Linked DNA regions of Homo sapiens. The protein of the gene in region 1 purifies or fractionates together with the protein of each later gene. This does not show direct contact. Each region holds a gene or a part of one and is shown in the gene's direction. Other genes may lie near its edges.

Evidence for each region.
Region 2: the proteins of PPA2 (region 1) and PDPR purify together in Homo sapiens (affinity purification with mass spectrometry, with the first as the bait; one large-scale study listed by BioGRID). This does not show direct contact.
Region 3: the proteins of PPA2 (region 1) and ARPIN purify together in Homo sapiens (affinity purification with mass spectrometry; 3 studies listed by BioGRID and IntAct, with this or other methods). This does not show direct contact.
Region 4: the proteins of PPA2 (region 1) and H1-3 purify together in Homo sapiens (affinity purification with mass spectrometry; 3 studies listed by BioGRID and IntAct, with this or other methods). This does not show direct contact.
Region 5: the proteins of PPA2 (region 1) and NIPSNAP3A purify together in Homo sapiens (affinity purification with mass spectrometry; 2 studies listed by BioGRID and IntAct, with this or other methods). This does not show direct contact.
Region 6: the proteins of PPA2 (region 1) and MECR purify together in Homo sapiens (affinity purification with mass spectrometry; 2 studies listed by BioGRID and IntAct, with this or other methods). This does not show direct contact.
Region 7: the proteins of PPA2 (region 1) and C1orf198 fractionate together in Homo sapiens (co-fractionation; one large-scale study listed by BioGRID). This does not show direct contact.

What each region holds. Positions count from the first base shown.
Region 1 is NC_000004.12:105,463,734-105,467,650, reverse strand, and holds part of PPA2 (inorganic pyrophosphatase 2, mitochondrial isoform 1 precursor), read left to right. Parts: intron 1-3,917.
Region 2 is NC_000016.10:70,120,438-70,124,354, forward strand, and holds part of PDPR (pyruvate dehydrogenase phosphatase regulatory subunit, mitochondrial isoform 1 precursor), read left to right. Parts: intron 1-23; 5' UTR 24-55; coding exon 56-282; intron 283-3,917. UniProt on the Homo sapiens protein: Decreases the sensitivity of PDP1 to magnesium ions, and this inhibition is reversed by the polyamine spermine.
Region 3 is NC_000015.10:89,909,948-89,914,457, reverse strand, and holds the start of ARPIN (arpin), read left to right. Parts: upstream 1-1,505; 5' UTR 1,506-1,622; coding exon 1,623-1,714; intron 1,715-1,770; exon of another isoform or gene 1,771-2,406; intron 2,407-3,638; coding exon 3,639-3,714; intron 3,715-4,510. Other genes in the region: ARPIN-AP3S2 (uncharacterized protein LOC100526783), read left to right, coding at 1,623-1,714, 3,639-3,714. UniProt on the Homo sapiens protein: Regulates actin polymerization by inhibiting the actin-nucleating activity of the Arp2/3 complex; the function is competitive with nucleation promoting factors.
Region 4 is NC_000006.12:26,233,482-26,236,609, reverse strand, and holds H1-3 (histone H1.3), read left to right. Parts: upstream 1-1,622; 5' UTR 1,623-1,676; coding exon 1,677-2,342; 3' UTR 2,343-2,398; downstream 2,399-3,128. UniProt on the Homo sapiens protein: Histone H1 protein binds to linker DNA between nucleosomes forming the macromolecular structure known as the chromatin fiber. Histones H1 are necessary for the condensation of nucleosome chains into higher-order structured fibers.
Region 5 is NC_000009.12:104,745,906-104,750,591, forward strand, and holds the start of NIPSNAP3A (protein NipSnap homolog 3A), read left to right. Parts: upstream 1-1,777; 5' UTR 1,778-1,887; coding exon 1,888-1,947; intron 1,948-4,686.
Region 6 is NC_000001.11:29,213,784-29,217,700, reverse strand, and holds part of MECR (enoyl-[acyl-carrier-protein] reductase, mitochondrial), read left to right. Parts: intron 1-888; exon of another isoform or gene 889-1,015; coding exon 1,016-1,113; intron 1,114-1,564; coding exon 1,565-1,696; intron 1,697-3,917. UniProt on the Homo sapiens protein: Catalyzes the NADPH-dependent reduction of trans-2-enoyl thioesters in mitochondrial fatty acid synthesis (fatty acid synthesis type II).
Region 7 is NC_000001.11:230,854,668-230,858,584, reverse strand, and holds part of C1orf198 (uncharacterized protein C1orf198), read left to right. Parts: intron 1-2,577; exon of another isoform or gene 2,578-2,707; intron 2,708-2,866; coding exon 2,867-2,917; intron 2,918-3,917.

The sequences.
Region 1 (3,917 bases):
TTGTAACCTCCTGATTCTTCACCCTGCTTCCACCCTTAGCCCTGTATAGTCTACTTTCCATACAGCAATCACCTTCATCCTTTTAAAATGTAAGTCAGATAATGTACAAGCTCTGCTGAAAATGCCAGTGGCTTTCCATTTCACTCAAAAAATTTTTTGAAATATGTACCATAGCATGTAAGGTCCTACTGGATCTAATACTGGGCTCCTCTCTGAATTCATTGCTTGCCACTTTTCCTTTTGATCAGTGTCCTCCTGCCATCCTGGCCTCCTTGCTGTTTCTCAGACATGCCATGTATGTTCTTTCCTCTGCACACCTGTGCTTTTTATGCCTTCAGTGCTCCTCCCTAGAGGTCTACTTGATCTCTTCCCTCACTTCATTCAGATCTGTGCTGAACTGTTACCCACCAGAGAGATCTTCCCTGACCATTCAATATCAAATATTACTCCTTCTGTTACAGTAGGTAGCTAGTCAGGCATGAGCAGGGCAGAAGAGGGCTCCCCTCCCTCAACACACACCAGGAATGACAGGCAAACATCAGGTGATGGTCAGGCAGTTGTTAACTGTTTCTCTAAAATATTAATTGGTTGCAGCCTGCACCAGGGAAAGGCAGTCTCCAAATAAACAGAAGCACCTGAAGCTGGTGATCAGCAGCTTCCCATGAGATCTCAGGAACTGGGTGAGTGGGCTCAAGCGTTTGCACTAAGAGGCAAAATGGCAGAGTTTGGTATGTGACCTCCTAGGGACATTCGACTGGTAAGGGAAGAACACCTCAAGTGAACACGCGTACAACTCCAGTAAACACGTTGCACATGGTCCCTTTCCCAAGTGCTGGGAGGCTACTGTGTGTGCAGACAGCCTGCCCCAAGGGAAGAATCAGGGGAGATGGGACACAAGATCCTGGAAGTATGCTAACATATAAAACCCCAAGTTGAAAGGTCAAACCGTGCATTTGTCTTTTCAAGTTGCCCACTTTGCCCTCTTCCAAGTGTACCTTCCTTCCCTTTGTTCCTGCTCTAAAGCCTTTTATTATAATAAACTGATTCCATCTGTAAAATTGCCTCAGCCTCTCCTTCTGCCTTCTGCCCCTCAGTTGAATTCTTTCTTCTGAGGAGGCAAGAATTGAGATTGTTGCAGAGCCATAGGGATTTGCCATTGGTAACGCTTCCATTATTCATTCTTCACTTTCCCTAATTTGTTTTCCTTTATCTTTATAGTGCTTATGATATGTGATAGAATAAACACATAATCATTGCTTCTGCACCCCAACTAGAATGTGATTTCCATAGGAACAGGGAATTGGAATTTGTATCTAGTATCTAGAACCATGCTTAGTACAGTGCATATATTCAAGAAATATTTACTGAATGAATTTAAGGAAAACTTAAAAATTAAATGGGAAAAACAAGAAACTTGAATTTTAGAAGGTCAAGTGGGTGTTCTCTATTACATCTGCTATAAAAAAAAGGAAGAGTTGGCTGTGAAGAAATGGCAATCAAGACCAAGACCTCTTTAGCAAATAACTTGTTAAAACAAGTAAGTCAGTAGAAGGTGTAGTGGGTTGAATGGTGTTCTGAGACACGAAGTTTGTGGTAGTTTCTTGCAGCAGTCCTAAGAAAAAGAATATAGATGAATTAGAAGATAAGGTAAATCTATCAGAAAGTAGAACAAAATGTCAGAGATAGAAAAAGGAGGCAAGAAGAAGTGACGTAGAGATTGAATCCAGAAAGTCCAACATTTGACTCATATGGGTTTCAGAAGGAAAGAACAGACAAAATGGAGAAGAAATTGTAAAAGGGATAATAGAAAAAAATCTAAGAATTGAAGGACCCAAGTTTTCTGACCCCCCCAGTCACATTATTATACAGCTATTGAGAGGATCCCACATGTCTTGCTGGGGGGTGGTCAGCTAACAGGCCTGCAACACTGAATGCTCGAAGACTGGAGTAATGCCTTTGAAATTCTGAGAGAAAAGAGTTTTCCTCCTAGAATTTTCTACCCAGCCAGCTGTCAATCTGGAGTGAGAACAGAGTAAAGACATTTTAGACATTTAACAACTTGAGAAATTGGCCTCACATGCAATCCTTCTTACAGAACACTTATTAGGGATATGCTTCTGCAAGACAAGTAAACCAAAAAAACGTGAATGCATGGGATCCAGAAAATGATAGATCTACACTGGAGAGCAAAGAAGCAGTCTTAGGATGCCCGGAAAGCATCCAGTTCATATTGCAGCCTGAGGATAGAGGGTTCCTGAAGGAGCTGTTTGGGTAAAGAGAGGATTCCATAATTTTGATGATATCCGTGAGGCATTGGAATAACTTATAGACGTGATTATGACAATGTAAGAAAGATAATTAGAAACACGAAGAAAAATAGAAGCTGAACCAAAAAAGGAAATTTAATTATAGCAGCATCCTCACCAAAAATAAACACATAGACAACGCTTCTCACACACCTGAGTGTAAGAATTATTTGGGATGTTTGCTAAAAATACAGATATTCATTTCTCCCTCCTTGAGATTTTGATTCACTAGATGTGGGATGGTGGTTCAGGGATCTGCATTTTAATGAGCATTCCAGGTTTTTCTTATCTAAGAGAAATTTTTGATATATATAATAGGAAATGCATAGAAAATTCAGTATGATTACAGAACATTCTATCAGCCTTGATATGAAAAAATAAATATGCAGAAGACAAAAATTAGAAGAATGAGGAAAGGGAGGTAAAAGTCAGGTTATTGATGTTAAGAAATACTGTATATTTGTATTAGTTTGTTTTCATGCAGCTGATAAAGACATACCTGAGACTGGGTGATTTACAAAAGAAAGAGGTTTATTGGACTTACAGTTCCACATGGCTGGGGAGGCCTCACAATCATGGCCGAAGGTGAAGGGCATGTATCATATGGTGGCAGACAAGAGAGCTAGTGCAGGGAAACTCCCCCGTATATAATCATCAGATCTCATGAGATTTACTCACTGTCACAAGAACAAGACTTGCCCCCATGATTCAATTATCTCCCACCAGGATTCCTCCCACAACATGTGGGAATTCAAGATGAGATTTGGGTGGGGACACAGCCAAACCATATCATTCTGCCCCTGGCCCCTCTCAAATCTCATGTCCTCACATTTCAAAACCAACATGCCTTCCCAACAGTCCCCCAAAGTCTTAACTCATTTCAACATTAACTCAGAAGTCCGCAGTCCACAGTCTCATCTGAGACAAGGCAAGTCCCTTCTACCTATGAGCCTGTAAAATCAAAAGCAAGTTAGTTACTTCTTAGATACAATGGGGGCACAGGTATTGGGTAAATAAAACATTCCAAATGGGAGAAATTGGCCAAAACAAAGGGGCTACAGGCCCCATACAAGTCCAGAATCCAGCAGAGCAGTCAAATATTAAAGCTCCAAATGATCTCCTTTGATTCCATGTGTCTCACACCCAGGTCACGCCGATGCAAGAGGTGGGTTCCTGTGGTCTTGGGCAGCTCTGCCCCTGTGGCTTTGCAGGGTATAGTCCCCCTCCTTGCTGCTTTCATGGGCTGGATTGAATGTCTGTGGCTTTTCTGGGTGCATGGTGGAAGCTATTGGTGGATCTACCATTTTGGGGTCTGGAGGACAGTGGCCCTCTTCTCACAGCTCCACTAGGCAGTGCCCCAATAGGGACTCTGTATGGGGGCCCCGACCTCATATTTCCCTTCCACAGTGCTCTAGCAGAGGTTCTCCATGAGGGCCCTGCCACTGCAGCAAACTTTTGCCTGGGCATCCAGGTGTTTTCATACACCTGAAATCTAGGCAGAGGTCCCAAACCTCAATTCTTGACTTCTGTGCACCCGCAGGCTCAACACCACTTGGAAGCTGCCAAGTCTTGGGGCTTCCACCCGCTGAAGCAAAAACCCAAGCTGTACCT
Region 2 (3,917 bases), on another chromosome or scaffold:
ATATGTTTGGTTTCTCTGTCTAGTTTGAGTTCCTGAGATCTAGTTGGTGAGAGACATGATGTTCTACCGGTTGCTGTCGATTGTTGGAAGACAAAGAGCCAGCCCAGGATGGCAGAACTGGTCCTCTGCAAGAAACAGCACGTCAGCTGCCGAGGCGCGTTCCATGGCCCTGCCCACCCAGGCACAGGTGGTCATCTGTGGAGGTGGAATCACGGGCACTTCTGTGGCCTATCACCTCTCCAAAATGGGGTGGAAGGATATTGTCCTTTTGGAGCAGGGCAGGTAAGGATCAGACTGCATTTGGCTCATGGCTGTGCTGCACTAATCGTATAAGATTCCCTCTCCTTTCAGAGATACTGCCCCACCAGTAGCTAATCTAAATGTTGCTAAGTAGCATGAGAAGAAGCAAGGTGGAATCTCCTGAATTTTGTTTAAGGATGACTAATAATGCTCATGTTCTCTGGTTTTTAGAGAGTTGGCAAATTTCGTTTTCCTTTTTTTTTTTTTTTTTTTTTTTTTTGGTGGTGGTGTTTTGGTAGACAGGATCTCGCTTTCTTACCCAGGCTGAGCTTGAATTCCTGGCCTCAAGCAGTCCTCCCACCTTGGCCTCCCAAAGTGCTGGGACTACAGGCATGACCCACTGTACCCAGCAACATTTTAGACTTTGACAAAAATTTGCGTTTGTAAATAATGTGGATTGCATTTAAGCAAAGTAGACAACTGCTTGTGTTTGCTTAATTGCTAGGTTCTTAATATTGTTCTCATTCCCCAAGAGAAATATGCTCTATAGGCTTAGTTTCTCTGTGCTCGCCTTCTTTTAGGTCAAGTATTTTCTGCTTTATTGGCTTGTAAGCTAAGTCCCTTTATATTAATTTGTAATAGTTACAGAGATTACAGAATGGATTCTTATAATCCATCATTAATTAATATTATACCACTATACAAGTAATGTTAGATTCATACAACAATATTGGCCGGGCATGGTGGCTCACACTTGTAATCCCAGCACTCTGGGAGGCTGAGGTGGGCAGATCACCTCAGGTCAGGAGTTCTAGACCAGCCTGGCCAACATGGTGAAAACCTGTCTCTGCTAAACATACAAAAATTAGCTGGGCGTGGTGGTGTGCACCTGTAATCCCAGCTACTCAGCAGGCTGAGGCAGGAGAATCGCTTGAATCCGTGAGGCGGAGGTGGCAGTGAGCAGAGATCATGCCACTGCACGCTAGCCTGGGTGACAGAGCGAGACTGTCTCAAAAAAAAAAAAAAAGAATACAGGCCTTTGACTCTGATAATTCTCAACCTGTGTTTAGCTAATGTTTTCTTATTCCCTTTTTTTTTTTTTTTTAAGATGGGGTCTTGCTGTGTCACCCAAGCTGGAGTGCAGTCACACTATCACAGCTGACTGTAGCCTTGACCTCGTGGATTCAAGCAGTCCTTCTGCCATAGCCTTCCAAGTAGCTGGGACTACTGACATGCACCACCACATCTGGCTGGTTGTTGTATTTTTCTGTAGAGATGGGATCTCCCTGTGTTGCCTAGGCTGTTTTCTTTTCTTTCTTTTTTTTTTGAAATGGAGTCTGGCTCTGTCACCCAGGCTGGAGTGCAGTGGTGCAATTTCTGCTCACTGCAACCTCCGCCTCCTGGGTTCAAGCAATTCTCCTGCCTCAGCCTCCCGAGTTGCTGGGATTACAGGCACCCACCACCATGCCCGGCTAATTTCTGTTTTTTTAGTAGAGACAGGATTTCACCGTGTTAGCCAGGCTGGTCTTGGACTCCTGACCTCCAGTGATCTACCCACCTTGGCCTCCCAAAGTACTGGGATTACAGGCGCGAGCCACCACACCTGGCCTAGGCTGTTGTCTTGTGATCAGACTTGGGTTAGAGACTTTTATAACCATCACTGTATTGAGATACAATTTGCATACCATGCCACTCATCCTTGTTAAGTGCTGAAATCTGTTTACAGAGTTGTGCATCCATCATCATAACCAGGTCATACATTTTTGGCAGTAAGACCACAGAAATTAGGCTGGACTCTCAGCAGTGCACCACATCAGGAGGTGTATGGCTGTCCTGTCTCACTTCTGGTGGTGATAAACCTGGTCACTCAGTTACATTGGTGTCCTCCAAGCATCTCTAGCACAGAGACCCTGTTTTCTCCCCTTGTAATGGGCCAGTGCCCTTTGAGGAGAGATGGATTCTGAGATTATGCCAATATCCTGTTCATATGAGACCTCCACCTACCGGGCTTAGCATCCATTGACAACTGTTGCCTGAGTCAGCCACCACCGTGATGGTTGACAAATGGTGATTTTTTGATCATACTTCTACATTTATTATAGTTGGCATATTACTGTCAGGAAGAGATTTCCTTCTCCCCCATTTATTTACTCAGTTATATATCTGTATACACACATACACACACACACACCAGTTTAGACTCATGGATTTCTATTTTATGCAGTGGATAGTTTTTTTTTTGAGACAGAGTCTTGCTTTGTCACCCAGGCTGGAGTGCAGTGACGTGATCTCGGCTCACTGCAACCTGTGCCTCCCGGATTCCAGTGATTCTCCTGCCCCAGGCTCCCAAGTAGCTGGGATTAATAGTTGCATGCCACCACACCTGGCTAATTCTTGTATTTTTAGTATAGATGGGGTTTCACCATGTTGGCCAGGCAGGTCTTGAACTCCTGACCTCAGCTGATCCACCCGCCTCAGCCTCCCAAAGTGCTGGGATTACAGGCATGAGCCACCGTGCCCGGCCCGCAGTGGATACTTTTAAGAGCAAAAGTGGGTTTTGTTTTTGTTAATGTTTTTGAGACAGAGTCTCACGCTGTCACTCAGGCTGGAGTGCAGTGGTTCAATCTCAGCTCACTACAACCTCTGCCTCCTGGGCTCAAGTGATCCTCCCACCACAGCCTCCTGAGTAGCTGGGACTACAGGCATGCACTACCATGCCTGGCTAATTTTTTGTTTTTTTGGTAGAGACGTGATTTCACCTTGTTGTCCAGGCTGGCCTCAAACTCCTGGGCTCAAGTGATCCGCCCACCTCAACCTCCCAAAGTACTGGGGTTACAGGTGTGGGCCGCCACACTTGGCCTCATAATGCTTCCTTGATGTCAAAGTCTTTCTCCTATTTTTTGAAATCCTTTTAAATTTAATTATCAGGTATTTCCACAAAAAGTGATAAACTAATCGCAGTGTAAATGTTTCTAAGTGGGAGACCCTAGGGAGGTTCATTTTTGGTTTAATTTGTTGCTTCAAGATTATATAATACCTTAGAATTGATATAAGGCAGACTATTTAAACCTCACACTTAAAAATAATTACGCCAGCCAGGCACGATCGCTCACACCTGTAATCCCAGGACTTTGGGAGGCCAAGGTGAGTGGATCACCGGAGATCAGGAGTTCGAGACCAGCTTGGCCAACATGGTGAAACGCCGTCTCTACTAAAAAATACAGAAATTAACTGGGAGTGGTTATTCGCGTCTGTTAATCTCAGCTACTCGGGAGGCTGAGGTAGGAAAATCACTTGAATCCAGGAGGCGGAGGATGCAGTGAGCCAAGATCGCACCATTGCACCCCAGCCTGGGCGACAGAGCAAGACTCAGTCTCAAAAAAAAAAAAAAAAATTATGCCTCGGCCAAGTGCAGTGGCTCATGCCTGTTATCCCACGACTTTGGGAGGCCAAGGTGGGTGGATCACCTGAGGTCGGGAGTTCAAGACCAGCCTGCCCAACATGGGGAAACCCCGTCTCTACTAAAAATGCAAAAATTAGCTGGGCGTGGTGGCATAAGCCTGTAATTGTAGCTACTCAGGAGGCTGAGGCAGGAGAATTGCTTGAACCTGGGAGGCAGAGATTGCAGTGAGCCAAGTTTGTGCCACTGCCCTCCAGCCTGGGCAACAGAGTGAGAC
Region 3 (4,510 bases), on another chromosome or scaffold:
CTCAAGTGATCCTCCCACTTCAGCCTCCTGAGTAGCTGGGACTACAGGTGCTCTTTCTTCCTAAAAATATGTTTAGTAATGGATGATTGGATGCAGAAAAAAAAATATATGTTTAGGTTGAAGAAAACACTTTAGACTGGGAGCAGTGGCTCAGGCCTGTAATCCTAGCACTTTGGGAGGCAGAGGCAGGTGGTGACATGAAGTCAGGAGCTTGAGACCAGCCTGGCCAACATGGTGAAACCCCATCTCTACTAAAAATACAAAAATTAGTCGGGTGTGGTGGTGAGTGCCTGTAATCCCAGCTACTCAGGAGGCTGAGGCAGGAGAATCACTAGAACCTGGGAGGCAGAGGTTACAGTGAGCCAAGATTCACCACTGCACTCCAGCCTGGGCAACATAGGAAGACTGTCTCAAAAAAAAAAAAAAAAAAATATATATATATATATATAATTCATATATTCATCTTTATGCCAACCCAGTGGTAAGATAATAATTTTTTAAAAAATTTTTAATGGAGAAAGGGTCCTTTGAAAACAAAAGTGCCTAGGACCCAAGAAAGTCATTGTCTGTGTGTGTGTGTGTGTGTGTGTGTGTGTGTGTGTGTGTGTAGCAGGGAAGGGAGAGGGTGCTTTCTTCTTCCAACATTGACAGCTCATGCTAGACTCCTAGGCACCTGCCTGGCCACCACCCCCTTTAAATGCCGCCCCCTCTCCCGGGGTACACCTGGCCTCCCTGAATGGGCCCACCTGCCCCGAGGCCTGGCACGAAGAAGCCAAACAAAAGAACAAAGATTCCTCAACAATCCCAGGGTCAGAAGAATCTTCTGTACCAGGCTTGGAAAATGCACCTGCGGACTATGACATACTTGGGCAAAGGGCATTGTGGGGCCAGGGAGGAGTTCAGGAGCTGTGCAGGAAGAAGGAGGGAGGGCAATGCTATGTTGTAGAAAGGGTGAGCTCATTAAACTTTACAATCCCCCTGATACTGACCCCATTTTACAGACGAAGAAGCATGGGCTCAGAGAGGTTGAGGAGCTTGCCCAAGCTCACAGCTGGGATTCAAACTTAGGCGTCTTTGGTCCGACACCCATGCCCCAGCTCCCTCGTCACAGATCCCTGGGATACCTGACTCAGCCATTGTAGGGCCGCGGGCGGGGCATAATGGACAGCTTCTAAGCTGACCACCCAATCCTCCCCAGTGGCTGTTCTCCATTCCTGCTTCCCAGAAACCCATCCTTCCCGGGCTGATCCTACAAAGGATCTTCTATAATAGGATCTTGGGGCCTCAATTTCCCTTTTGTGCGTGTGCTGGGGCAGGGATCTTCCTCTAGGAATGAGGAAGAGAGAGAGACAAGAGAAAAGCATGGCCTTTCTGCCCCACTGTGCTAAGCCCCCAGCCAGGGTCCTCCCGGAAGCCCAACTCCTGCCGCGCGCGGCCTGGCGTGCAGGAATGGAGCTCGGTCCCTTTAAATCCCGCCGAGGAACGCCTGAGGGCCGGGCCGCGCCATTCCCGGATCCGCCGGCTGGGAATCGCGGGTCCCCGCGCGTCCTGCAGCACTTCCCGCGCCGCGCCCCCAGCCCAGTGCGCCGGCTCTGTGCCGGGGTGCCCGGGCGGTCGGGAGAATGAGCCGCATCTACCACGACGGCGCGCTCCGGAACAAGGCGGTGCAGAGCGTCCGGCTGCCAGGGGCCTGGGACCCCGCCGCCCACCAGGGGTAGGCCTGGGCTCACGGCCTCGGGTCGGCCTCCCCTGCCCCGGCTCGAACCCCGCAACAGGATCGGGTGGGGGGGTGGGATGCGGGTGGGGGAAAACTGGGGTTGCCAAAGCCGCCTCTCCGCCTTCAGTCCGCCCCTCCAGTCCGCCGCTCCCGGCGCCCCTGCCGCCGCGCCCGCCCAGCGACCCCATGACACAGATCGGCTTAAAGCTCCCCGCCTGTCCGCCTGCCCTCGAGAGAGGGTCCCGACCCCCAGACAGGTCTCCGAAGGCTGGGCTTCGCCTCACGCCGACCTCCGGCCCCACCCCACCCGCGTAACTATAAACTCCAGCTACTTGCCGCGCTGCTTTTGCACAGACTCATGCCCTGCCCCAGAAGGGACAGTGGCCGTGCTGTGGCGGGAACAGCGGGCGGGCTGGTCCAGAGCAGGGCCTGCCTGGGTGAGGAGGATTTGGAGGGCCAGGCCCTGTCGTCACAGGGTTATGAGGCCGAAGGGACCATTCCATTTACAACTGCGCTGAAGAATTGTGCTAAGTGAAATAAGCCAGATACAGAAAGACAAATACTGTGTGATCTCGTATATGGAACCTATAAAAGCGTTGAACCATAGAAACGGCAGAACAGACCAGGCGCTGTGGTTCACGCCTGTAATCCCAGCACTTTGGGAGGCCGAGGCGGGTGGATCACTTGAGGTTAGGAGTTTGAGACCAGCCTAATGGTGAAACCCTGTCTGTACTAAAAATACAAAAATTAGTCGGGCGTGGTGGCAGATACCTGTAATCCCAGCTATTTGGGAGGCTGAGGCATGAGAATCGCTTGAACCTGGGAGGTGGAGGTTGCAGTGAGCCGAGATTGTGCCACTGCACTCCATCCTGGGCGATGGAGCAAGACTGTGTCAAAAGAAAAGAAACAGTAGAACAGTGAACAGTGATTGCCAGGGGATAGTGGATGGGGATGGGGTAATGATCAAAGGTACAAACTTTCAGTTATAGAATAAACAATTTCTGGGGACCTAATGTACAGCATGGGGTCTGGTGGGTGTGTTCATTAATCTGTGGTAATCATTACATAGTGTGTACTTAAATCATCACGTTGTGCACCTTGAATATATACAGTCTTTTGTCAGTTAAATATTTAGAAAAATAATTGTGGGGGGTGGGGAAGAATTGGATAGAGACCAGCTAGGTAGAGTTTTCACTTCCCACTCCCATCCCTATTCCACTGTCATCTTCAGCTGTCCCCATGCTTCTCCATTTCTGTGGATGCAAAAAAGGAAGCCTCCACGTTCTGCTTTTATGAAAACCAGAGTCGAGAAGCCAGGGGTCCACTTCCCCTCAGTGAAGGACCGTGTGATCTTGGACTAGTCTCAGACTTCTGAGTTTTGGTTTCTTCACCTCTCAGTAATAACCATTTCCTCGGGTTAATGACCACCTGGATATGAATGAGAAAAGGAATATGAGAGTGTTTAAAAACAGGTGGAAAGGGAAAATAGTTTATTGCAGCTTAGATACCTACCCTCACATTTGGACCAATAAAAAAGTAAAATCTTTTGTATTTAGTAATCACTTAATAGCTTACAAAACACCTTCACACACATGATCTTGTGTCAACATCAGAGGAGCAGAGTGAGGCAGCTGTTTTCCTCCCCATTTTGTAGATAAGACTGAGGCTCTGGTTCCAGTAACTCCCAGTGGCCTTGTAGGAGGGGGCCATAGCTTGATCTTAGGGCAGCCTGACAAGGTTCCTCCTGGCATCTGGGCAATGCCCCAGCCTTTGGGACCCTTTGGAGATCCCTATGTCGGAAGCACGGGGAAAGGAGCTGCTCAGTACCCAGCCTTCTCAGGGCTGGGTAAATAGGAGACACGGGTGAGATTTGCTGAGGACTGACAAAACTGGCTATCCTTTCTTTCCCTTTCATCCCCAGGGGAAATGGTGTCCTGCTGGAGGGAGAACTGATCGATGTATCTCGGCACAGCATCTTGGACACTCATGGCAGGAAGGTGAGGATGCTTCCTCGGTGCTAGCTAGAGGGCACTGACTTCACGGTCATCATCCACTGTGGCATCTCCTTGTGCTGGGTCCTTCCAGTGCCATGAGTTGGGATTCTTGATGGGCTTAGAAAGCAAGTGGGAAGTAGGTCAGGAGATTTATAGCCAAATGGGACCACCAGCTGGAAGAATAGTTTAAGGCTGTGTTGAGCAGCAGACAGGTGGGAGGGCCTGTGTTCTTGCCAGAAGAGCCTGGGTCATGGCTGAGAAGGCAGACCAGGCCCTAAACCCCAGTCTTGCCTGAATGTAAACTCTGACAGTGTCTGGGGCTTCAGTTCCCATGTTGATGTCCTGGCTGCCTTTGCCCTCTCAGCCTCCTGGGGTCATGTCCTGTATCACCACCCCATCTCAGGTGTCTGTGGGTACACCTGGCATTTACCATCCAGTACTAGCCTGTGTCTTTTTTCGGAGCGCTAGTTCCGACTTTCCACTCCCCCTTCAAATAGCCCCACCTAGATGTGCTGACCACCTTATCTCCTTGATCTCTATAACTGAGCTTGGTCTCTAAAAATGCCCCCTCCAGTAGGGCCAGAGGCCTGGTGCTACATGGAGCCTGCATGTCCCTCCTGTACCCCATGAGAACAGCTCAGCACTATTTTCATGTCAGGCGGTATTTTGCTGCACCCTCCCCTCCTTAGCACACAGTGGGCAGGTGGGAACACCCATCAGAGCCCCTAGCTAGCCTGCCCAGGAGAGCCCAGCAGTGTCTCCATGCTGATGTGGGGCTTGCTTGCCTCATCTGCCGTCA
Region 4 (3,128 bases), on another chromosome or scaffold:
CCCAGCATGGCCTCACAAAGTGCTGGGATTACAGGCGTGAGCCACTGCGCCTGGCCAAGACAAGCTAAGTAATTTTTATGAAATTAGTTGAATGAGGAGAGATGACATCTTTAAAGTTGATTATTTTATCTAGGATTTATATGAAAAAATCCTCTAATCACTATTGAGTGTAGGCCAGAATAACTTGATTTTTTGAAATGAGTATTTTTGTTAGAAGAAACATAACATCAAACTACTTCTCTTGTTTCTTCAACATAGGAGTTCATTTCAGCATCTGATTACTTGATGGAGAATATCAATTTTGTGCTTAATTATTTAATAATAACCTAATTCCATCAGCTGTATTGCAAACTAACAGATAAAGAATACTGAAGTTACTCATGTTTGCTTTGAAATGTTTGTTCAGCTCCTTAGGTGGACATATTCAACCAATTAATTTAGGGTGTGACAGCTTAGTTCATATTTTGTGTGTAAAAAGCCAAGTAGAATGATGAAAATTTACAGTGATTTAAATCAGATATTTTTCTTTCTAACCCTTGATGCCCACACTTGCAATGTTGAAAATTTGTATTTTATTTTTTTAAAGTGACTTTTACCAGTTATTCAAACAGGTTGTACAGAGAAAGAGGAAGGGAAATTTGTATTATAAATATGATTTTAAAATATAAAAAATGTACAAAATTCTATGATGAATATTAGCAAAAAAATAGTGTATTTCATTAAATTATTTATAAAGTGATGGGACACAAACATGTACACAAGCTCTCAATGCTCACAGTTGCCAAAATGATGTTGGCCTGCCATTCTATTATTTGTTGGTTCAGTTTTCTTTTTTGGGGATGTGGTAGTTGATCTTTAATGCCCATTCTAGATCGGAAAAATCCATGATCCTAACTTTTAAGAGAAGGTTGGTAACTCTACTTAGGACTTTTTTTTCTGTAAGAGGAATAATGTAGCCTCACCCTTATCTTTCTGGAAATGTTTAAACCACTGAAATATGGAGATCAAATCCAGCTTACACACTGGTAACTCAAATACTATTTTTTTTTTTAAACTATCTTTTCTAAACTAATCACCCCTCTTGTACATAGAACTTTCTACCTCAGTGCCAATTCCTAGAGGTTGATGCAAACAGCTCGCCAGAGAGCCTGTGCTATTGTTCCTGCGAAAAAACCCAATTTCCCTGCACATTTGGATAAAAATGAGTTTATCTATATAAAGTTGAGACGGTAAGAATTCACAGAACAATGCCCTGGAAGAGAGATTTGCAAATGAAAGAGGGAGAAATAGTATTTTTAAGGAAAACATGAAAGTTGTCTCGATTTGACCGAAGTTTGAAAGAGAGTTGGGGGAATAAGAAAAGTTTCAAGATGCCGGTTTTAAAACTATGCATAGAAACAAAGGCAGGAATGAAGCCCGAACTCTCTCGGATCAGTTTCCCCCAAGTCTCTAATTATTTCATGCCCAGATTTCTTATATTTTTACTCTTTTTTAAGGGGCAACAAACACAGCAGCGCGGTAGATACGAGGAGTCCTTTTCCAGCAGCGCCGCGCATGGAGCAAGGAACCAATCATCACTCAGCGTCTCTCTATATAAACCCTCAGCCTCCCTCGTAGAGGACATGCTGTTCTGACAGTTTGAGATTACTTATTGTCTTTTCTGGGAAGACAAAAACATGTCGGAGACTGCTCCACTTGCTCCTACCATTCCTGCACCCGCAGAAAAAACACCTGTGAAGAAAAAGGCGAAGAAGGCAGGCGCAACTGCTGGGAAACGCAAAGCATCCGGACCCCCAGTATCTGAGCTTATCACCAAGGCAGTGGCAGCTTCTAAGGAGCGCAGCGGCGTTTCTCTGGCCGCGCTTAAGAAAGCGCTTGCGGCTGCTGGCTACGATGTAGAAAAAAACAACAGCCGTATCAAGCTTGGCCTCAAGAGCTTGGTGAGCAAAGGTACTCTGGTGCAGACCAAAGGTACCGGTGCTTCTGGCTCCTTCAAACTCAACAAGAAAGCGGCTTCCGGGGAAGGCAAACCCAAGGCCAAAAAGGCTGGCGCAGCCAAGCCTAGGAAGCCTGCTGGGGCAGCCAAGAAGCCCAAGAAGGTGGCTGGCGCCGCTACCCCGAAGAAAAGCATCAAAAAGACTCCTAAGAAGGTAAAGAAGCCAGCAACCGCTGCTGGGACCAAGAAAGTGGCCAAGAGTGCGAAAAAGGTGAAAACACCTCAGCCAAAAAAAGCTGCCAAGAGTCCAGCTAAGGCCAAAGCCCCTAAGCCCAAGGCGGCCAAGCCTAAGTCGGGGAAGCCGAAGGTTACAAAGGCAAAGAAGGCAGCTCCGAAGAAAAAGTGAAACTGGCGGGACGTTCCCCTTTGAAAATTTTAAACGGCTCTTTTCAGAGCCACCCACAGGTCTCAGTCAAAAGAGCTGAAGCTTTTTGGAGGGGGGAGTGGGGTGGAGAGGGGTGCGGGTGCTGCGGTGTTGTGCGGCCACGGTCTATCCTAGTCGTGCTGGTTGGGGGTCAGTTATTAACAGCTCCCAGCAGCCTGGGCGCAAGGATCCTTCCGTCTCAGTCTCAGCCACAGTCACCGGATAGCTAAGGCTACTTGAGCCACCAGGTCCTACTTTTTCTTCAAATTCCCGCGGTGGTGTGTGATTGGCCGGCCGATTTCTGTTAAAGCGCGGCGCTTAAAAGTGGCCCTGAAAAAATTTTATTTCTGACACAGGGATGTGGTGTAAATGCTTTAGTTTACTTTAGCGTTGAGGTGACTTCCTGAGCACATCCCGTCCTGGTTGTGAGCAGTACGTGGCATGCCCAAGGTGCTTCCGGCCCACGATCTTGTGCAGCTGGTCGTTGAGAATGGCCAACTGCTGGTGGTGCCCGGTGTCTGTCTTTTCGCAGGCCTTTGATAAGCCTTAGCTTTGGGATATCGGCCCTCAGGTACTGTATTTGTAAATAGTGTGGGGGCTGCACTGCGTGACGAGGTGGCTCTCCTGTAATCCCAGCATTTTGGGAGGCCGAGGCGGGGGCATCACGAGGTCAGGAGTTCGAGGCCAGCCTGAAGAACATGGTGAAGCCCCATCTCTGCTAAAAAAAAATACAAAAATTAGTCAGGCGTGGTGCCGCGCGCCTGTAAT
Region 5 (4,686 bases), on another chromosome or scaffold:
ATTTACAAGAGCTATTTAATCTACCCTAATTAATATATTATTGAAAGATACTACCAAATGCTGAGTGTTCTGGCCTTCTTCCCTCCTCAGCCTCAGGAAACTGGCAGCAAGGCTTTTCTCACACAGATAAGATACTGGAAGTTTCCCTTCCCTAACACTGACTACACAGATAAATAACTTGCAGATAACAGTTTGGGGGGAGGGGATACAGCCTTCAGTGAAATACCCAGGTCAGATCACCTCACAGTGAAGCCCACTATTTGAAGAGATTCACCTGTGCTTACAGTGCTTTTAACATGTTTTTCTCACTCCAAAATATATTTTTAATGTAAACATCAATAAACGCAGGAAGGAAAGTGTATTTTGAGGGAGTGGTATGAAGAAACCTAAATCCTAAATATCCAAGTCAATAGCTAGAATCCTGACCACTTTTAGAATTCCACTAGCACCTTTATTCGTATCTTACTTTATTTTTCTTTATATTATTTGACAATCCCTGATATATTTACTCTTCCTTTTTTTATCTGTTTCCTCCATCCTGGATGTTCCAAGAGGACGGGACTTTGAATTTTGCTCAATTCTGTACCCCAGTTTCTGGAAAAGTGCCTGGAACATGGAAGGAATTTAGTAAATATCTGTTGAATAAGTAAATGGATTGGCAATTACAGGGTTTAAAAAAAAAGGTCTAAGAAAATAATTTACTCATATAGATCCAGTCCTGATACAAATGATTTTTTTAGTCTTGCATGGTTACAAATAGATGTCTCTCTTCTAGAAAAACTGAGGCAACCCTTCCGAAATAACTAATTTTAAAAAGTCTCCCTTCCTTTGAACAGACAATTCCAAAGCTCTTCCACAAGGCACAACCAATACAACCCAGGTCATGGCCCTGCAATCCCTCCCTAGTCCTCATGATGTAAGCAATATTACATTAATGTTTACAATAATGTAATTATTAGCAAGAATAATGTAAACATTAATATAGATTACTGTAAATTAATAGTGTAATTAATTACTGTAAATTAACATAAGCATTATTAGATGCAGGAAGACAAGTGAATTTGGGGGCAGTGGCATCTATGAGACATAAATCCTCATCTGCCACAGAAGGAAGTCAACACATACTATCCATAACTGAAAATGCAATAAACAGCAGAAAACACTACTTACTTAAAAATACAGAAACAAGCATTAAATGAAACAGCTTGAAATGTTGAAGGTGGTTACTCTGGGAACCAACACTCCCGGACTGGGAGGACTAGACCAGGGTATGTTTAACTTTGACTTTTTCATTTCAGGCTCGATGCTGCCATTTCTCTGAGCTCGTGGAAAATTTAATCTAAATCTTAATTAGGAGCCTTCTAAGATGGAGAACACATTCATTGCAGAGAGGTCAGGCTCAAATACACGTCTATCACAACATCTAAAACTTAACTCGGAAAAAACCTCCACGATTTTAAATACAAAGCACTGCACATGCACGCACTCAACACCTCTCCTTCTTTCCCCATGGTCAACACACCCACAACCCCTGCACATTTACCAATCTACACAACTGAGCACTGGAGCGAATGAGGTGAGTGAGGGCCCAGAAAGTTGAAGCAGGAACGATCCGAGCCTTCAGTTAATCCTAACGTCACCTCTAACGTTTGGGGTAAGAACGTTTCAGGAAACCAAGGGGGAACCAACGCTCAGCACAGCAGAGAAAGACACCAAGCTACGGGACCCGCCGCGCCTCCCGCGCCGGGGTGGAGCTGACCCCGCCGAGCCCCGCCCCAGCCTGCGTCTGCCAATGATCCAGGAGCCGCTCCTTTCCACTCGGGAAACCTTCAGAGGAGTCTCAGAAAGGACACGGCTGGCTGCTTTTCTCAGCGCCGAAGCCGCGCCATGCTCGTCCTCAGAAGCGCCCTGACTCGGGCGCTGGCCTCACGGACGCTGGCGCCTCAGGTACCGGCCACGGGGGTACCCAAGCCTTCACCCGACGGGAGGGGAGGGGCGGGGCGGGGAGTGTTCCGGGTACGTGCGAGCAATGCGCATGCGCTCTCCGCCACGCGCGCCCAGACCTGGGGCCCCGGTGAGGTTCTAGCGTGAGCCCCGGAACCCCAAGACAGGGGTACCCGGAACGCGCGTGAGGAGGAGGCCGCTGCTAGGGGAATACCCCCAGCCGGGGTCGTCTCGCGGGCAGTGGTGGTCAGAAGGCTTTTCTAGCCTGGATGCCACACCCACCGGGACACTCCCATGGCGCCGGCTGTTTCGTTTTTGCTGCCCAGCTATGTCGCGGCTGCGGCCCAGCGAGCGCTCCCATGTTGTCACCTGGCGCTGTGGAGCCGCGGGTGGAGTCGTAGCTTTCCAAGCCACCGCCCTCTCTAGACATCAGGTTGAAGGAGGGAATTGTCAACCAGCCGCTTGCCACGGAACCGGCCTCCCCCTTTTAAATGAAGCACACAACTTCCGAGCATTTCGCGGAGACCCTTGAAGAGGAGGCCCAGGGTCCCGGTGGGGCTGGACCCTGCCCGCCACCCGCGCTTCGTGTGGTCGCTCCCCCAACCAGGCGGGACCGGAGCCTCCTATCAAACCGGACGATGACAGACAGACTCTTTTAACCTTAGATGAGAAATGGACAAAATGGAGCTTGTGATTCTGCCCTAACTTTCGGGAGTGGCCTATTCTGTGGCTTCAACCTAGAAATTTCTTTTCCTTTTGATGTTTAGGACTTTACTCCTTTCTGAAGGGGCAGGATGGGAAGGGGATTAACCTGTCCTAGAGACAGACTGAGGAGCACTAAAGAAGAGCAGCTCATGTCCATTCACCCCGGGTTAACAATGCAGTTTTTACCCTAATGATTCTCCAGTGGGGCAGGGCCAGGAATGACGTCCTTATGGCATGATTCCAAACTTTAAGTTTTTAGAAATGTCCATCAGTTGTTCTCTTTTAAGTGAAGTGGAGGTCGTTGCTGGTGGGAATGATCCCTAACTTGGAGATAAGGGAGGATGGACGACTCATGATTTCTGCCCTAGCAGCTAAAAGTCATCCCTGCAACAAAATTCTTAACTCCCATCCGGCTCCCCCACCATACCCGGCTCCCCTGCAGTCTTCCTTCTCTGGCACCACCTGTCCACATCTCTCTCCCTCTCTCACTGTAGGTTCCCTACTGTATATTAATACTGCCCAAAATTGTAAAAATGTGTACCTTTGATCAACTATTTTATCCTCCAAATACAAATTCCTCGAATCAACCTGAAATCCATTTGTCACAAATGCCCCATTGGCCTATCTCCTGATATATTTTATTATAATAATTTTGAAATTATGGATACTAGGCACTTGCTTCTTGACCAACATTGTTACTAGAGTTTGGTTTAAAAGCACAAAAAGAGTGTCCACAAAAGGCAGGGGCAGCTGCAGCTGTTTTTGTTGGTAGGCTTAGTCATTTGAGCAATAAGAATATAAGTCACACACGAATAGAATTAACTCTAGATAATTATCATTAAGCCTTATCATACACAGTTACATAATTTTGTATTTTGTAAACAAAAATATGTCGGAGCAAAAGCCTACTGCTTTCAGACAGACATACTGGCTAGTCAGTATAAGCCCTAATTTGTCCATAGCTTTGTAGGTATCAAAACTGTCTTCACAGATTATTCTGGTGTAATCAACTTAAGGAAATGGCACATGCTATTCAAACTTAAGTAAGATGGATTTATAAGAATATCACGAATGCCTGTGTGTATACCATGAGTGCATATATATATGTGTGTGTGCGTATGTGTGTGTGTATGTGTATACATATATACACATAGATACCTACATAGAGGATAATCTTAGGCGAGGTATTTCTTACAGAAAGTTCAACCAGAACACAAATTAGAAATTTACAGTGCGTGTATGACTATTACAAAAGGAATTAATGGTTCTTAAGTGATATTTTCATCAATGTGGTATAAGTGGATTCATTAAATGTTGTTCACATTGCATCTGTAATTAGAAACTAATAAGAAAATTTTGACTCTGAATTTTCTTTTCTCAGCATTCATGTTCTACCATTATATTACAATGCAATTGGATAGGTCAGAGCTTTTTATTGCATTAGTTACATTCCAGTCCTAATTTTGGTCAGTGGTTTACTTCATTGAATTAGGAAATACTTTGACCTGAACTGTAATTTCCATTTTTTTCAAGAACCTAAAAGAGTTTTCTTCTAGTAAACATTTTTTTCATTATGCCTGCCAAAAGTTACGTGCGTAGTTAATAAAGTTCTTTGATGTGCATAACTGTAACACGTATGCTCTTGACTAAAGATGCAATATTGGCTAATAGGAAAACTTTTGTAAATTTGTTAGAATCCTAATTGTAGTTCTTGGATAAAGAAGTATCATTAAGATCTCAGCGCCTTCTTATGAGCAATTTCTGAAAAAGTGGCTAAAGGTGACAGTGAACCCCCACTAGGAAACAGTAACTACACACTCAGCATATTTAAGAGTAGTTGTCTTTATTGACACCTCTATGTAAACAAATGTATATGTGAAGCAGGAGAATAGGGTCTTGAGGCAGGGAACCTAAGGACTTCCTAGAACTAAATCAAACCCTTCAGCTATGACAAGAAATACCCTCTTCATTTACATAGGGTGTACACAGAGTAAATGACTTTGCAACTTTACTTCATCCTCTTCATTTATATACGGC
Region 6 (3,917 bases), on another chromosome or scaffold:
GGTTGGTAAGAACTACTTGGGGTGCCCTCATCTGGAGATTCTGGCTTAGTAGATCAGAGGTGGGCCTGATAATTTATATCCATGAGCATACCAGGTAATTCTTATAACTAAGCGAGTTTTGGAAAACACAGGGCTCATCTAGGCCAGCAGAGGTTTCCTGTCCCAGAGTGGGCAGTGGGGTTGAAAGACCGGGCACAGTGGCTCACACCTGTAATCCCAGCACTTTAGGAGGCCGAGGCAGGCAGATCACGAGGTCAGGAGTTCAAGACCAGCCTGGCCAACATAGTGAAACCCCATCTCTACTAAAAAAATAAATAAATAAAATTAGCCGGGCGTGGTGGCAGGCACCTCTAGTCCCAGCTACTTGGGAGGCTGAGGCAGGAGAATCGCTTGAACCTGGGAGGCGGAGCTTTTAGTGAGCCGAGATTGTGTCACTGCACTCCAGCCTGGGTGACACAGTGAGACTCTGTCTAAAAAAAAAAAAAAAAACACTGTGGGTTTTCCACTTGCAGTTAATGAGAGTCAACCTCTATCCTATGTTGATTTCTTTTTTTTTTTTTTTTTTTTTTTTTTGAGACAAAGTCTTGCTTTGTCACCCAGGCTGGATGGCACAATCTCAGCTCACTACAACCTCTGCCTCCCACGTTGAAGCAATTCTTCTGCCTCAGCCACCCGAGTAGCTGGGATTACAGGCGCCGACCACCACGCCCAGCTAATTTTTGTATTTTAGTAGAGACAGGTTTTCACCATGTTGGCCAGGCTGGTCTTGAACTCCTGACCTCAGGTTATCCGCCTGTCTCGGCCTTCCAAAGTGCTGGGATTACAGGCGTGAGCCACCACGCCCAGCCTCCTGTGTTGATTTCTTATGGTACCTCTCTTTTATAACAGAACCGTAATTCCTGGGCACACATGGCAGCTCAGAAATGTTGCCTGACCTACTTTGAGGAGATGATTTGAGCGAAACACCCATTCTAGCCTGGATGACATGAACATCTCCGTTTGGCTTTGTGCTTAGACTCAAGAACCTGGAGCTAGCTGCTGTGAGAGGATCAGATGTCCGTGTGAAGATGCTGGCGGCCCCTATCAATCCATCTGACATAAATATGATCCAAGGTAACCTTGGTTTCTGTGGCTTATGTTAATTGGCTTTTTTGTTCAGCTGCCACCTCATTTTCATTCCTCCTCAGGTGTGGGTGTGAAATGCCTGTGATTAGCAGCAGCTGTTCTCCAGATGAGCCGTCTGCAGGCTGTGTCAGCCCTGTCTGGCCTCCCTTTTCTGGAATGTGTGGCTTTTTGAGAAGATTGCAGTGGGGAGTAAACTAAGCATTGTGAAGTGCCTGCGACATGCTGGTTTCATTTCATATGTTACCTGATTTTCATGATAACCATGAACACTAAAGAATATTGTCCCCCTATACAGACAAGCAAGCTAAGGCTCAGAGGTTGGTTAGGCAGACAGTCCAAAGCAGAGCCCAGATCAGGCCTAGGATGGCGTGGACTCAAGTCCATGCTCTTTCACTGCCCAAACATCACTGGTTGACCCTTTAATGCTCTTCTCCCTCAGGAAACTACGGATTCCTTCCTGAACTGCCTGCTGTTGGAGGGAACGAAGGTGTTGCACAGGTGGTAGCGGTGGGCAGCAATGTGACCGGGCTGAAGCCAGGAGACTGGGTGATTCCAGCAAATGCTGGTTTAGGTGAGTTTCTCCAGGTGTCAGCTGCCTATTCGTTCTTCCAGATCCTATTTCACCCACTCTGTCGGCATCCACTGATTGGCCGAGTGTACCTGGGTAATGCAGGGTTTATTTTTTTTATTTATTTATTTATTTTGAGACGGAGTTTTGCTCTTATTGCCCAGGCTGGAGTGCAATGGCGCGATCTCAGCTCACCAAAACCTCCGCCTCCCCAGTTCAAGTGATTCTCCTGCCTCAGCCTCCCAAGTAGCTGGGATTACAGGCGCCTACCACCACGCCCGGCTAATTTTTGTATTGTTAGTAGAGATGGGGTTTCACCATGTTGGCCAGGCTGGGTCTCAAACTCCTGACCTCAGGGATCCGCCTGCCTCGGCCTCCCAAAATGCTGGGACTGCAGGCCTGAGCCACCACGCTTGGCCTTGTTTTGTTTTTTTTTGAGACAGGGTCTCACTTTGTCACCTGTGCTGGAGTGCAGTGACGCGATCTCGGCTTACTGCAGCCTCCCAGGTTCAAGCGATTCTCCTGCCTCAGCCTCCCGAGTAGCTGGGATTACAGGTGTACACCATCACGCCCGACAAATTTTTGTATTTTTAGTAAAGAGGGGGTTTTATCATGTTGACCAGGCTGGTCTCAAACTCCTAACCTCAGGTGACCCACCACTCAGCCTCCCAAAGTGCTGGGATTACAGGCATGAGCCACTGTGCCGAGTCTGAATTTTGTTTATACATGGAGATGAGCCAAAATTCACTTCATGTGGAGGATGTAAAATGAGGAAAGACACAAAGGTGAGATTGGGAAATGGTGGAAAATCCATTGTAGCCTCAGCAGAGGGTTTGCATATGGGAGAGGATTGCACGAGTGAGAAAGAAGGCCAGAAAGGCAGGTTCAATCACGTGAGCCCAGGAGTTCTAGGCTACAGTGAGCTATGATCGCACCATTGCACTCCAGCCTGGGCAACAGAGTGAGACCCTGTCTATTTTTTTTTAAAAAGGTAGCTTGTGTCCACATGGGGTAAGGCCCTGCCCAAGCCAAGCTAATGAGTAGGATTTTGTTTGATATATTATAAGGAGTCATAGGTGAGTTTTGTTTTTAGCACTTAACAGTTTTCAAGGCACGTCTGTTATTGATCCTCACAGCAGCTACAAGAGGGAAGCAGGGCAGGTATTATCCATCCATTGGACATAAATTGAAGCTTGAGAAGTAAAGCCCTGGCCCAAAGTCAAACAGCAAAATGAGAGTGCCCACTGGATTCTTTCTCCTGGGTTCCCATTACACACCAGTGTTATGATCTTCTGGGTTGTAACTTACAGCGACCCAGCTCAAACTTGCTTTAAAAAAAGAAGTTGGGGCCAGGCGTGGTGGCTCACGCCTGTAATCCCAGCACTTTGGGAGGCCGAGGTGGTGGATCACCTGAGATCAGGAGTTCAAGACTAGCCTGGCCAACATGGTGAAACCCTGTCTCTAATAAAAATAAAAAAATTAGCCGGGTGTGGTGGCATGCGTCTGTAGTCACAGCTACCCGGGAGACTAAGGCAGGAGAATCTCTTGAACTCAGTAGGTGGAGGCTACAGTGAGCCGAGATCATGCCACTGCACTCCAGCCTGGGCAACAGAGTGAGACTCCATCTCCAAAAAAAAAAAAAAATAAGGCCAGGCGCAGTGGCTCATGCCTGTAATCCCAGAACTTCGGGAGGCCATGGCAGGCAGATCACCTGAGGTCAGGAGTTTGAGACCAGCCTGGCCAACATGGTAAAACCCCGTCTCTTCTAAAAATAAAAAATTAGCCAGGCATGGTGGCGTGCACCTGTAGTCCCAGCTACTCGGGAAGTTGAGGCAGGAGAATCACTTGATCCCAGGAGGCGGAGGTTACAGTGAGCCGAGATTGTGCCACTGCACTCCAACCTGGGCGACAGAGTAAGACTCCATCTCAAAAAAAAAAAAAAAAAAGAAAGTTGATTTGTGGAACTGGGAAGTGTAACAGAGTGAAAGCTTCGGGTTCAGCTAGATCCAGGAACCCCAGTACTATCAGAGTTGTGTCTCTCACTTGTTCTTAGATGAGATCTCCCCACATATTGATATAATCAAACCAACAAATATTTATTGGCCACTCTCTTTGTGCCAGGCACTGCTCTAAGCACTTCATGTATATTAACTCAATTGTTCCCACAACATGAGATGGATACCTCATCATTCCCACTTTGCAGGTGATATAACAGTAAATGCAG
Region 7 (3,917 bases), on another chromosome or scaffold:
GTTGATTTCCATTTACCTTTTTCGAAAGATCCAAAGCTGGATCTCTACTCTACCCTGTGGATGGCCGGTTCTTCCTCCTGGAACTAAGAGCTGTGAAGAGCCGGTGAAGTCTTAGGGGGTGTGTGAGTGTGGGGTGTGGAGGCTGGGGAGGAAAATCAACCTGTGAAAATATCCAGGCTTGTGCAGAGATCATTTATTCACGAAGAGTTAATGAATGATTAACTAGAATAAATGATACTTACATTCCATCAGCCTCTTTTATTTTTCCCATGTGAAAACAAAGCCCTTCTTGGTTTGATTGCTTCTAAACGGAACTCAGAGGGTTCTGAGGATTTTAGGGACTTTGGTTATTTAGCTCAACTGTACCCCTAGCATGCACACAGAGACGTGGACAAGGAGCCCCCTAGAGCTGAAGGCTGGCCCTCTGCCTCTGCTAGGAGACATCTAATCACAAAGCCTTGGTAACTCACATTCCTCCAGGCATCCATTTCCATTTTTGGAGGAATGAAGTTTGTGCATTGGGAAGTGACTTGAGTTTAACTGAAATTCCAAACAAAAAGGCAGTGGTTCCTCTCATTTTTAAAGGTTTTGCTTGACAGCCATGAGGCACTGCATACCAATCAGTTCAGAAGTCAGGATCATAAGCAAATACCATTACAGGACAGTGACTGTAACACTCTGAGGATGGGGGTCATCTTACTGTGCACATGGTCATTAGTTGCACACACTATGTGGTTCTCAGAACTGACTGTTTGATACACTTTAATGCAGCTTAACCCAGTTTGTAGGGCTTTTCCCTCACTTTTGTAATTCTTAATATTTATACCTAGTATCTTTGTTAGTGGTGTTTTTTTTCCTGATATAAATATATTTAGTCCTTTTATATGCTGTCCTGGGAAAATAAAGACCTGGATTCTGGCCTTTTGACAGTCTCCTCTCTGGGTTTTCCTTGCTCTTTATCCCCAGCATATGTGAAGTATTTGTGCCACAAATGTACCAGCCTCTACTGCACAGAGCCAAGGCACACAGCACAGCCATCAGGACACAGAACCAGATCTCTACCCTGTTGATGGCTGGCTCTTCCTCCTGGGGCCAAGAGCTGTGAAGAGCCTGTGCCCCCACATTGGGAAGTCTTGGGGGAGTGTGAGTGTTGGGAGCGGGTGATTGTGGGGGAAAATCAACCTGTGAAAGGATCCGGGCTTGTGCAGAGTTTGTTTATTCACATATTCTCAAAGAGTGAGTAAGCGTCCGCTACGGGCAGTCGCTGAGTCTTCCGGGCACTTGGGATAGAGAAGCGGACAAAGGCCCTGCTGTGTTGCCCCTGTCATCTAGGGTTGGCCGTGCTTGGGCTGTGCTGGGGAGTCATCACACACTTCCTTCCCTGTCCCCGCTTCTTGGGAATAGGCCTTCAGCTGCCCAGACCCTGGCATGCCTTCGTTATTTGAGTTCAAAGACTGACCTCCCACTGGCTGTTCATGTTAGGAGGCGTCTGCACAGAGAACGCACACTCGGGGTCTGGAAGGCTGAATGTGTACACTTATGTGTTGGTGAGGCACTCCCCCTGCGTGGGCCCTGGCATTTGCCCCCAGTGTCTGAGGCTAAGCTAGGGTGGCGGAGGCTCTGTCAAAAGCTGAAAGAAGAGGGTCTGTGGGCAGAACTGGTTTGCCCTGTAGAGGAGAGGGAAGCCAGACCCTTGACTTAGGGGCGCAGAGTCGGTGTACCTATGGGTGGGAAGAAGACAGTTATCCAGGGATACTTACGGAAGGACATAAATCACCTGGAGTTTTGGGGAGATATGGATATGATCTCCGTTTAAAATATTTTATCCCATTTTAGCCTGTATCACCCAATGTGTCCTGATTTTTTGTTCTGAAAATATGCTCCCAGTAGAAGCAGTCAGACATGGTGCACACCTGTAGTCCCAGCTGCTCTGGACACCCAAGGCAGGAGCATCCCTTGAGCCCAGGAGTTTGCGTCCAGCCTGGCCAACATACTGGGACCCCATCTCTTAAAACAAACCAACAAACAAACAAAAGTTACCCAATCGAAGCTGGACACAGATGAGACATTTGCTAGCACAGGAATAACTGCGGGTAGAGGGTGGGATATAAGGAAAGGTGGCTTCCCCAAGTCATTTGTGCAGGCCAGTGAACAAAACATACTGGATCCAAGGTCAAATTCGTAGTGATTGTTCTATAGGGCTCTTTCTGTCCTGTTCTGTTTGGTGGGGGTGGGGAGTGATTTCAGAGTTCTTGTTATAATTAGTCACATGGATTACATTGGCGTTTTTCTTCATTGATTCTGCTGATCCATGCCCTCGAGCTCTCTGGTAGGCCTGTTGGGGAGGAGGGGAGCTCCTGTATTGGCATTGACTGGCAGATTATGGCTTGGCGTTCTTTTCCCAGATTACCTCATTTAATCCTTACAACAGCCCTGCAAGGGAAGTATCATTTTGCTTTTACAAATGAGAAAACTGAGGCTCAAAAAGGCTGAGTCATCTTCCCATGGCCACACAGCTAATCATTGTTCAGGGCTGAGTCTGTGCCTGATTCTGCTGAGACCATCAAGCCCTCATCCACTCCTACTCATCTCATCTGTCTGAGTCCATTGGGGGGCCTCACCGGCATTCCCTGTTGTCTGTTTGGCTGGGGAGGGGAGTGTCTGGCAGCCTCAGCGGGAAAGATGAGGGAGCAATCTGATCAAGACGGTCAGCGCATTATATTGAGAGTGTCAAAGCATCAGGCTTGTTTAGAGCCAGGAGTTGGGATTATTCCTAAGTTTTGGTTCCCCCACGGTCCTGGGTGGATATTTGCATGGGGTATGTCTGGGTTTGAATTTCAGACTTATTCTCGATTTTTTATTTCAGGATCTAACTTGGCAAGATGAGCACTCTGCCCCTTTCTCCTGGGAAACAAAGGTAAGTTGGATTAAATTTAGATCTATTTGTTCTTTTAAAAAGAACTGAGTAGTTGTATATTTTTCTTTCAGCATTTGATGGACTCAGAAGACAGCCCCCTGACTGCCAGGCTGCAGGGGATGTGTCCATTGTTGGTAGAAAAGGAGGGGATGGGAGGAGCATGGTGAGGAATTAGGAAACTATTGTGTGTGGTTTGGTGATAGTGAGTTCAAAGTAGTAGTGCTTTCTGCCAGGGTCCAATGACGCCCCATGATGCCCATTGTCTAGGACTCCCGGCCAGCTTGGTTAAGGGGGCCAGCCCTCTTGGGGGCCCTGTCTCTGCTCATACCTCTGGTTCCCAGCACTTAGCACCTTGATGGGAGATGCCCCATAAGACAAAGCTTTGAGCAAATGGGAGGTGACGAGCTGATTGATAGACATAGACATCCATTTAGCTAATTCATCCCAACGTGGATCACTAATTCTGTCTCCCAGTCATTCTTCTTCTCATCATTATCATCATCATCACCAGAGTTGCTTAAGAGCATCAAGCTTCACTGATTTTAATTCATTTTCCCCATCTCCTAAGTTGCCCCAGTAGAAGTACATTCATAAGCAAAATGACTAAAAGACAGGTGTCTTTAACCCAAGGGACAGAAATAAAAGACCAAGATTTTCTGAATTCTGGAACATTTGGTGATGTGTGTTGGAGGGTTCTTTACGTCATGAGAGTGTGTTACAGACAGAGACGGTGGTGAGCCTGGAATAGGGCTCGGACTGCTGGGCAGATCAGGGTTTTTAAATACTGATACCTCAAGGCACTTGTTTTTTGGTTTTTCACTTGTCCACATCATTGCTGATCAGAGCCCTCATCCCAGCAGGAGACCTATGAGGAGGGTGGGCCAGAGTGGTTCATGAAGGACCCTGAGAGGCCCTCATGTTGGCGACTGTGTCTTAAAATGAAATATTGCCCAAGGGTTCAGATGGACACAAGGACAGCTGACACTGTTCTTGGCACACA